2 separate regions of the Homo sapiens genome follow, and region 2 is linked to region 1. The links come from fine-mapping of genetic effects on gene expression. A gene starts in region 1. The other region holds a variant in brackets. All regions are shown on one strand. Distances are between the middles of the regions. Region 1 holds the start of GPRASP1 (G protein-coupled receptor associated sorting protein 1). Region 2 overlaps ARMCX5-GPRASP2 (ARMCX5-GPRASP2 readthrough).

Region 1 (5,232 bases):
TGGGACCTAGACATGGTATTAGCCTCTTGATTGGCCATGTGCATGGATCTGTTACTGTCTTTTACCCTATTCCCAGGATGAAATTTTGCAGTGACCTCATCTCCACTCCAGAACAAGGAACTCACAGATTTGTCTACCCATTTGAAATCAGAATTAGGAGAGGCTTCTTGTTTGGATGTAGGCCTAGGACAGCACCAGGACCCCATATTGGTCTCCTCCTTTGACCTAAAAGAAGGCTGGAATCCTGCTTGGTAATGGGCCTTCCTTCTAGGAAAGCTCTCAGTGTCTGTATTAACCAGTTCTCTATCCTCAGACAGGTACTTTGTTTTAGCAACCAAGACAGAATCAGTACTGACAAGTGGAGAGGCTATGATATTGGTCTGGGAGTTTCTCTCTGTCTTAGACAATCTTTCAGCACCAAACCTGGGCTGAGCCCACATCTGGGCTTCTTCCTTAAATCGTGAAACAGGTATTGCCTTGGCCTTACTCTTAGGGCGTGCCCCACCCACTGCACTTGTCTCAACTTTGGTGCTTGCTCCAGGCATAACCTTGGACTTATTCTTGGGCCTTGCCCCAGGCATTATCTGGGCCTGGGTCCTAACCTTGGGTCTGACCACCAGAGGGACATCATTCTCTATCTCAGCCCCACCTACAACCTCTTCCCCAGGCTTCTTTTCAGGCTTGACCTGGGCACCAGACTCAATCTCTGCCCCAGTCATGGTACAAGTTACAAAGAAAGTCCAGTACTATACTCCTCCCCCAGTCTAAACCTCAACCACAGATCTGTCACAGGTTTGTTTCTTCACACTCTGATCTTTAGGTGATTGAGGATATAAGCTTGGAAACAAGAGTTAGAGTCAATATCCAGTCCAGTAGTCACTCAGCCTCCTTCCCAAACACAGTCTCAGTCAGTAATTCAATAATACAGATAGAGTGTAGAACAGGCACAACCAAGCTTGAGGAAGACAGAGATTTCCTGGATGGGTGCAGACCCGTTGAGGGTGGTTGTCAGCAGCAACCCCACCACCAGCAGAGCAGCCACTGGAGGTGGATCTAGGGAGAGAGAATGAAATGGGGCTTTGAGTCTCTTCCAATTATGTCATCCCATGCAGAGACATATGCAGTGAGACTGATGTTGAATGCTAGGTGGGACAGCTGGGCTTTGAGAAAGTCTCTCTGGACCGGCTGCCTCCTATTAAACAGGTCCAACAATGGTGGGAAAGTGTGTCGGCAATGGGAGGGGCCAAGAAGTCCCCAGATTGGACCCTAAGCACTCCCGGACCCATGCTGGTCTCCACTACCCCGCCCAAAAGTATACCCACTCTCATACCAACCTTCACTTATGTGGTGCAGTTTCCCCCTCCTTTTCTTGTTCAAGTAGTGTCAAGCCCCACAGCTGACAGAAGGGGGTCCTACAGACAAGTAAACATACAGGAGAGAATGGAGAATGGTAGATAGGCAAGCACTCTGGCTCCTGTGACAAATATCTGTCTTCCCATTCAAGGGTTCAATGTATCTATGGTTTCCTGTGTCCTGGTCCCTGCTCTCAGGTCTTTCTGAGTCACAACACAACCTACACCTATCTCATGTCCCCTGCAAGAAATAAAAAGGATGCTGGCACTGTGCAAATCCAGCAGAGTAGAAGTGGGTCTGCACCCACTGGTCTCAAAGCCACCTGCCATGCTCTCTTTCTCCAACTGTCCCCTGAATTGCCCCCTCCCCCTTCTCACCAACCTCCAGAGGTGTGAGCCAGTCTCCTCCTCCTTGCCTTTCTTGCAGAACTGGCCAGCCTTAAAGCAGGCCTATGGACAAACAGATGAAAAAGTAAGACAGGAAATGAGGGGTGGCAGTAAAGCCCTTGGTAGAGAGACCAACGCTAAGGATAAGAATCCCCATATTATTGATATCTGTCTTTCAACATTCGGGGTTTTGCTGGTGGAATATTCTCGTTTTGTTTAGGCCCTGCTTCAAGGTTCTAGAGATAACAACTCCTTCTCTTGACGTCATACTCTTCTCATTACTCCCTTCTCCAATTCTGAGGATTCACCACTAGGTGCGCCACATCCCCTTGCTCTGCGCAGCAGAAAATGGGGGAAGGGCGCCACATATTCTAGAAAACAGGTCGTGAATTGGTACTTGTCAGTATGTCTCCCTCATCACCCCTACCTCCAAAGCTCACCCTTTCAAGCCCCCAGTTTAGGACGGTGGGGGAGGCAGATGGGGATGGAAGGTGGGGGAAGCGCCTGGAACACCATTAGAGAGGGGAAGATTAAGAGGTGCTCCTGGATGCCTGACCTGCTCTGGTCGCAGTCCCCCACCCCGATTCGGTTCTCCAGTGTTTGGCACCCACCCCACATCCCCACACACCTCCAGAAATCCAGGGAATATTCGTGCTCCTCCTTTATTTCAAGCCTCTCCTCTACAGATGCTCACTGTGTCCTGTCAGAATACGCCAGACCTACCGCGCAGACAGACTTTGACATCAACCTGGAGTCTGTGGGAAGGGACAGCACCCAGGACACGGGGCCCCACAGGCCCCTTTCCGGAATCAGGGCCCGGAGCAGCGAACGCGACCCACCTCCCACGGGCTAGGCACAGAGCTGGGACGCTGGCCCACGAGGGCCCCCCCAGGCGCCCCCCAACTGCCTCCCGGGCGCCCCCCAACACGGCTCCCGTTTGGCCATTTCTCCCGCAGGAGCCTCCCCCACAGCCGTCTCTCGGTACCGAAACCGTCGAGGGCTGCGCGCGGGCGCCTGCAAAGCTGGCTGGGAAGCGGTCAGCGCGGTTCTCCTCCAGACGATCTGACGGTGCCTCTGGAGCCAGCCCCTCAGCCCTTGGTCCGGCCTGGCCCGCACCAGTCACCGCCTCCCCATAGCCAGGGATCTCGGGCACTGCGCACCTCTCTCTAGCGCCCGGCTCCGAACGGATCGTCTCCTCGTTGCCAGGCTGTCAGGGTCCGGGGGGCAGGTTGCCAGCCGGTCCACCCTGGCGGACCACCCCCACACCACGGCCCCCCACCTCACGCACCCCTACTTGCCTTCAGAGGCCCAGAGCCCAGGTCATCGGCCTCCCCCTCCTCTCTTCAGCTCTCCTCTGGCTGCTCTTCAGTTGGATTCCCACCGCTTTCCCAGCGATCCGAATGGCAAAGACGAGTCCCGCCCCCCACGCCTCTGCACCAAACTGGGCAGGGGCTGCGCAGGATGCGGCAAGAACCGCTCTCCGCGAGGGTGTCGGGAAGGGGGGCGGAGGGATACGGCGCGAAAGTGCAGGACGCCCCCCCTCACAGAACCACCATAGTTCCGACCCAGAGGTGGGCGGGGCCAGGACGAGCCCCAGCCGGGGCCTGCGGGTTGGCACCAGGCTGCCTCAGGAGGACCCCGCGGACCCTAACGTGGCGACGACCACCACATTTCTGGCGCTGCTATAATATATGGCACCGGCGGGCGGCTGCGGGGCCGGGCGGAGGACAGGATCGCGAGGTCGCGAAGAGCCGCGCTGGAGGGAGCAGCGGATGGATACCAAACCGTCCCTTGGTGTGTCTGCACCCCCGCCCCAACCGCCCCCCTATAAGGACTGCTGGGTGTTTGCCCTCTCCCCCTCCCTAGTCTGCTCACCCTCCTTCCTGGATGTTAATGGGAGAGGGGGTGTCAGCACTGCAGTGTGGGAGGGGAGAGGCGATTTCAGTCCAGACAGGCCCGGGGTTCTAGGGTGGTCGTCCTGTGCGTTTCTTTCCCAGCTTCGTGGAGCCACGCAGGGGAGGAAGGTACACCTGCTCTTAAGTGAACTCCGGGGCAGGGGGCTCCCATCAAGGACTCACCACTGCCCCTCTTCTAAAAGAAGGTAGACCTAGACCTCTAACCCTAGGAAACCAACCACTGGTCTGCACCAGACTCATTTCTTTCTGCCACACCGCTGTTTCTCATTTCAAATGGTGGCTCACGTTGGCATTGCACCGTCCCCACAGTTGCCCCCAAAAGAGGACCTTTCCCTGTCAGGACCCGCAGGAGGTCATAACAGTCCTCTCTCTTTGATGCCGCCAGGTAGGGATGGTCCTGGCTTCTCTTCGGTTCCCTGTCAAGTCTTCTCTTGCCATGATATTTGGCAGTGTGGAAATGTGGCTGGTATCAAACCAGCTTGGATCTCCGCCACCTGCCACAACTACCTATTGTTTCAGCAGTCATTCTCAGGAGAGGATCCCACCGTGCACCCCCCTCCCCGAGACAAAGCAACCTGGCTCATTTGAATCCTCTTCTTTCACCCCCACATCCGTCCTCTACTCTTGAGCCCCTCCTTTCCCTGCTTCCTGCATGGGACAGACAGAGCAATGTGGTTAAACACCAAGTTGATGTTGTTACTGTTGTCCATTTGAAAACTCATTTAGACACTACCCTCATTGTGTTTGGCAGGTAACGGTCCCCTAAAGATGTCCATGTCCTGTTCTCCAGAACATGTACCATTTTATATTACCTGACAAAGGATCATTAAGATTGCTATTCAGCTGAGTTTAATTTAAGATTATTCTGGGTTATCTTGGCCAATGTAATTGCAAGGGTACTTTAGATGTGGAAGGCAGGGACTCCATGTCAGATTGAAGCAGCATAGAAAGTCTACACTGGTCATCGTTGGCTTTGAAGATGGAAGGAAGCCAAGATCCAAGAAATACAGGCTGTCTCCAGAACCTGGAAAAGACAAAGAAACAGATTCTTCCCTAGAAATGCCAGAGGGATAGCTCCTCTGGCAACATCTTGATTTTAGTGTGGTGAAGCCCTTTGAAGATTTCCAACCTTCCAGGACTGTAAGATAATAATAAATTGGTATTATTTTAAGCCATTCCATGTATGGTAACTGGTTACAGGGTAGCAGCACCAGACCTATCTGGTTTAACTTTTATATAACAAAGTTGTGCATTGTCTTTCAGTTGCCGGGGACCCTCAGATCATGTTACCTGAGCATCCTCAGATGAACCAAGCATGCAATCAGAGGGAGAATGTAAGTGTTTTGAATTAGGACCAGGGCTGAATTAAGAAGTGGACACTGGATGGCAGGATCCAGTCAGATCATGCCTCTCAGCATCACCTCATTGTAAGATCCAAAGCCATCAGGATATACCCTTAATACCCAATGCTTATGAAAACCTGACCCAGCCCCCATCTCAGGGAGACATTATTTTGGGAAGTATCCCTGGTGGTCTCATTACTTCGTTACAAGTAATAAATCCCCTTACTAAATCCT
Region 2 (5,232 bases), 220 kb before region 1:
TCCCTTCCCCACCTCATTTGTCTCCTGCTCTTTGTGATAGTATGGGATGTACACAGGTATCCCAGGTACCCTGAGAGAGGATAGAACGATGGGAAGATCTAGACCATGAGAAAGGTGGATCAGGCAGCACAAGTCCTGGAGCCTGTGCCCTGGGTGTTGGTTCACCCACCAGGCGCTCCATCTCTACCTGCTTCTGTGTGCCTCACCATTACTCTACCACATAGCAATGAAGCTCCCACATAACAGAAATATGCACTCTCCAAGAGAGGCTAGCAGGGGAAGTTACTTACCCCTGAGCCCAGAACATCTCACAGTTACTGGTTTGGGTCTGGCACCAATATGCAGAGAGATCTCTGGTCTCTCTTGCTCCAGTGTCCCGAACAGCAGACAGTATGAGGCTTTCATCAAGCCCCTTTGGACTGCAAAGGAAACACACATCTCTCATGCAGACTGGCGGTAATACAAGGGGACAGGAAAACCCGGGAAACAGGAAGAAGTGGGGTGTATGGTGATTTCATTCCCTTACCCCAAACTCCATTCATGGGGTCCATGATTCAGTTGAATAGAAATGGTGGAATCGGAAGCCAAGATGGCTGAATAGGAACAGCTCCGGTCTACAGCTCCCAGCCTGAGCGACGCAGAAGATGGGTGATTTCTGCATTTCCATCTGAGGTACTGGGTTCACCTCATCAGGGAGTGCCAGACAGTGGGTGCAGGACAGTGGGTGCAGTGCAGTGTGCGTGAGCTGAAGCAGGGCGAGGCATTGCCTCACTCAGGAAGCGCAAGGGGTCGGGGAGTTCCCTTTCCTAGTCAAAGAAAGGGGTGACAGATGGCACCTGGAAAATCGGGTCACTCCCACCCTAATACTGCACTTTTCCAACAGGCTTAAAAAACGGCACACCAGGAGATTATATCACGCACCTGGCTCGGAGGGTCCTACGCCCACGGAGTCTCGCTGATTGCTAGCACAGCAGTCTGAGATCAAACTGCAAGGCGGCAGCGAGGCTGGGGGAGGGGCGCCTGCCATTGCCCAGGCTTGATTAGGTAAACAAAGTAGCCAGGAAGCTCGAACTGGGTGGAGCCCACCACAGATCAAGGAGGCCTGCCTGCCTCTGTAGGCTCCACCTCCGGGGGCAGGGCACAGACAAACAAAAAGACAGCAGTAACCTCTGCAGACTTAAATGTCCCTGTCTGACAGCTTTGAAGAGAGTAGTGGTGGTTCTCCCAGCATGCAGCTGGAGATCTGAGAATGGGCAGATTGCCTCCTCAAGTGGGTCCTTGACCCCCGAGCAGCCTAACTGGGAGGCACCCCCAAGTAGGGGCAGACTGACACCTCACACGGCCGGGTACTCCTTTGAGACAAAACTTCCAGAGGAACGATCAGGCAGCAGCATTTCGGGTTCACCAAGATCCGCTGTTCTACAGCCACCACTGCTGATACCCAGGCAACCAGGGTCTGGAGTGGACCTCTAGCAAACTCCAACAGACCTGCAGCTGAGGGTCCTGTCTGTTAGAAGGAAAACTAACAAACAGAAAGGACATCCACACCAAAAACCCTTCTGTACGTCACCATCATCAAAGACCAAAAGTACATAAAACCACAAAGATGGGGAAAAAACAGAGTAGAAAAACTGGAAACTCTAAAAAGCACAGTGCCTCTCCTCCTCCAAAGGAACACAGCTCCTCACCAGCAACAGAACAAAGCTGGATGGAAAATGACTTTGAAGAGCTGAGAGAAGGCTTCAGACGATCACACTATTCTGAGTTACGGGAGGAAATTCAAAACGAATGGCAAAGAAGTTAAAAACTGAAAAAAAATTAGACGAATGGATAACTAGAATAACCAATGCAGAGAAGTCCTTAAAGGAGCTGATGGAGCTGAAAGCCAAGGCTCGAGAACTACGTGAAGAATGCAGAAGCCTCAGGAGCTGATGTGATCAACTGGAAGAAACGGTATCAGTGATGGAAGA[C/T]GAAATGAATGAAATGAAGCGAGAAGGGAAGTTTAGAGAAAAAAGAATAAAAAGAAATGAACAAAGCCACCAAGAAATATGGGACTATGTGAAAACACCAAATCTACGTCTGATTGGTGTACCTGAAACTGACGGGGAGAATGGAACCAAGTTGGAAAACACTCTGCAGGATATTATCCAGGAGAACTTCCCCAATCTAGCAAGGCAGGCCAACATTCAGATTCAGGAAATACAGAGAACACCACAAAGATACTCCTCGAGAAGAGCAACTCCAAGACACATAATCATCAGATTCACCAAAGTTGAAATGAAGGAAAAAATGTTAAGGGCAGCCAGAGAGAAAGGTCAAGTTACCCACAAAGGGAAGCCCATCAGACTAAAAGCGGATCTCTCGGCAGAAACTCTACAAGCCAGAAGACAGTGGGGACCAATATTCAACATTCTTAAAGAAAAGAATTTTCAACCCAGAATTTCATATTCAGCCAAACTAAGCTTCATAAGTTAAAGAGAAATAAAATACTTTACAGACAAGCAAATGCTGAGAGATTTTGTCAGCACCAGGCCTGCCCTACAAGAGCTCCTGAAGGAAGCACTAAACATGGAAAGGAACAACCAGTACCAGCAAATGTAAAAACATGCCAAAATGTAAAGACCATCGAGGCTAGGAAGAAACTGCATCAACTAACGAGCAAAATAACCAGCTAACATCATAATGACAGGACCAAATACACACATAACAATATTAACTTTAAATGTAAATGGGCTAAATGCTCCAATTAAAAGACACAGACGGGCAAATTGGATAAAGAGTCAAGACCCATCAGTGTGCTGTATTCAGGAAACCCATCTCAAGTGCAGAGGCACGCATAGGCTCAAAATAAAGGGATGGAGGAAGATCTACCAAGCAAATGGAAAACAAAAAAAGTCAGGGGTTGCAATCCTAGTCTCTGATAAAACAGACTGTAAACCAACAAAGATCAAAAGAGACAAAGAAGGTCATTACATAATGGTAAAGGGATCAATTCAACAAGAAGAATTAACTATCCTAAATATATATGCACCCAATACAGGAGGACCCAGATTCATAAAGCAAGTCCTTAGTGACCTACAAAGAGACTTAGACTCCCACACAATAATAATGGGAGACTTTAACAGCCTACTGTCAACATTAGACAGATCGAGACAGAAAGTCAACAAGGATACCCAGGAATTGAACTCAGCTCTGCACCAAGTGGACCTAATAGACATCTATAGAACTCTCCACCCCAAATCAACAGAATATACATTTTTTTCAGCACCACACCACACCTATTCCAAAATTGACCACATAGTTGGAAGTAAAGCACTCCTCAGCAAATGTAAAAGATCAGAAATTATAACAAACTGTCTCTCAGACCACAGTGCAATCAAACTAGAATTCAGAAATAAGAAACTCACTCAAAACCACTCAACTACATGGAAACTGAACAACCTGCTCCTGAATGACTACTTGGGTACATAACAAAATGAAGGCAGAAATAAAGATGTTCTTTGAAACCAACGAGAACAAAGACACAACATACCAGAATCTCTGGGACACATTCAAAGCAGTGTGTAGAGGGAAATTTAAAGCACTAAATGCCCACAAGAGAAAGCAGGAAAGATCCAAAATTGACAACCTAATGTCACAATTAAAAGAACTAGAAAAGCAAGAGCAAACACATTCAAAAGCTAGCAGAAGGCAAGAAATAACTAAAATCAGAGCAGAACTGAAGGAAATAGAGACACAAAAAACCCTTCAAAAAATTAATGAATGCAGGAGCTGGTTTTTTGAAAAGATCAACAAAATCGATAGACCACAAGCAAGACTAATAAAGAAGAAAAGAGAGAAGAATCAAATAGACACAATAAAAAATGATAAAGGGGATATCACCACCGATCCCACAGAAATACAAATTACCATCAGAGAATACTACAAACACCTCTATGCAAATAAACTAGAAAATCTAGAAGAGATGGATAAATTCCTCGACACATACACCCTCCCAAGACTAAACCAGGAAGAAGTTGAATCTGTGAATAGACCAATAACAGGCTCTGAAATTGAGGCAATAACCAATAGCTTACCAACCAAAAAAAGTCCAGGACCAGATGGATTCACAGCCGAATTCTACCAGAGGTACAAGGAGGAGCTGGTACCATTCCTTCTGAAACTATTCCAACCAATAGAAAAAGAGGGAATCCTCCCTAACTCATTTTATGAGGCCAGCATCATCCTGATACCAAAACCTGGCAGAGACACAACCAAAAAAGGGAATTTTAGACCAATATCCTTGATGAACATTGATGCAAAAATCCTCAATAAAATACTGGCAAACCAAATCCAGCAGCACATCAAAAAGCTTATCCACCATGATCAAGTGGGCTTCATCCCTGGGATGCAAGGCTGGTTCAATATACGCAAATCAATAAACGTAATCCAGCATATAAACAGAACCAAAGACAAAAGCCACATGATTATCTCAATAGATGCAGAAAAGGCCTTTGACAAAATTCAACAACCCTTCATGCTAAAAACTCTCAATAAATTAGGTATTGATGGGACATATCTCAAAATAATAAGAGCTATCTATGACAGACCCACAGCCAATATCATACTGAATGGGCAAAAACTGGAAGCATTCCCTTTGAAAACTGGCACAAGACAGGGATGCCCTCTCTCACCACTCCTATTCAACATAGTGTTGGAAGTTCTGGCCAGGGCAATAGGCAGGAGAAGGAAATAAAGGGTATTCAATTAGGAAAAGAGGAAGTCAAATTGTCCCTGTTTGCAGATGACATGATTGTATATCTAGAAAACCCCACTGTCTCAGCCCAAAATCTCCTTAAGCTGATAAGCAACTTCAGCAAAGTCTCAGGATACAAAATCAATGTACAAAAATCACAAGCATTCTTATACACCAACAACAGACAAACGGAGAGCCAAATCATGAGTGAACTCCCATTCACAATTGCTTCAAAGAGAATAAAATACCTAGGAATCCAACTTACAAGGGATGTGAAGGACCTCTTCAAGGAGAACTACAAACCACTGCTCAATGAAATAAAAGAGGATACAAACAAGTGGAAGAACATTCCATGCTCATGGATAGGAAGAATCAATATCGTGAAAATGGCCATACTGCCCAAGGTAATTTATACATTCAATGCCATCCCCATCAAGCTACCAATGACTTTCTTCACAGAATTGGAAAAAACTACTTTAAAGTTCATATGGAAACAA

The links.
Region 2: its variant is fine-mapped to the expression of GPRASP1 in whole blood (TOPMed, PIP 0.96).

The regions. Positions count from the first base shown.
Region 1 is chrX:102,649,401-102,654,632 of GRCh38, reverse strand. GPRASP1 (G protein-coupled receptor associated sorting protein 1) reads right to left here and starts at 3,150. Exons shown (of 6, transcript NM_001184727.2): 1 at 3,038-3,150; 2 at 2,900-2,946; 3 at 2,368-2,458; 4 at 1,735-1,802; 5 at 1,335-1,412; 6 at 1-1,053. The coding sequence starts at 719. The region is part of intron 4 of ARMCX5-GPRASP2 (ARMCX5-GPRASP2 readthrough); the gene reads right to left.
Region 2 is chrX:102,872,670-102,877,901 of GRCh38, reverse strand. All of the region lies in intron 13 of ARMCX5-GPRASP2 (ARMCX5-GPRASP2 readthrough), which reads right to left. The region is part of intron 4 of LINC00630 (long intergenic non-protein coding RNA 630); the gene reads right to left. Among named protein-coding and RNA genes, the nearest start is that of RAB40AL, 62 kb to the left of the region's middle. The variant C/T (reference allele first, on the strand shown) is at 1,971.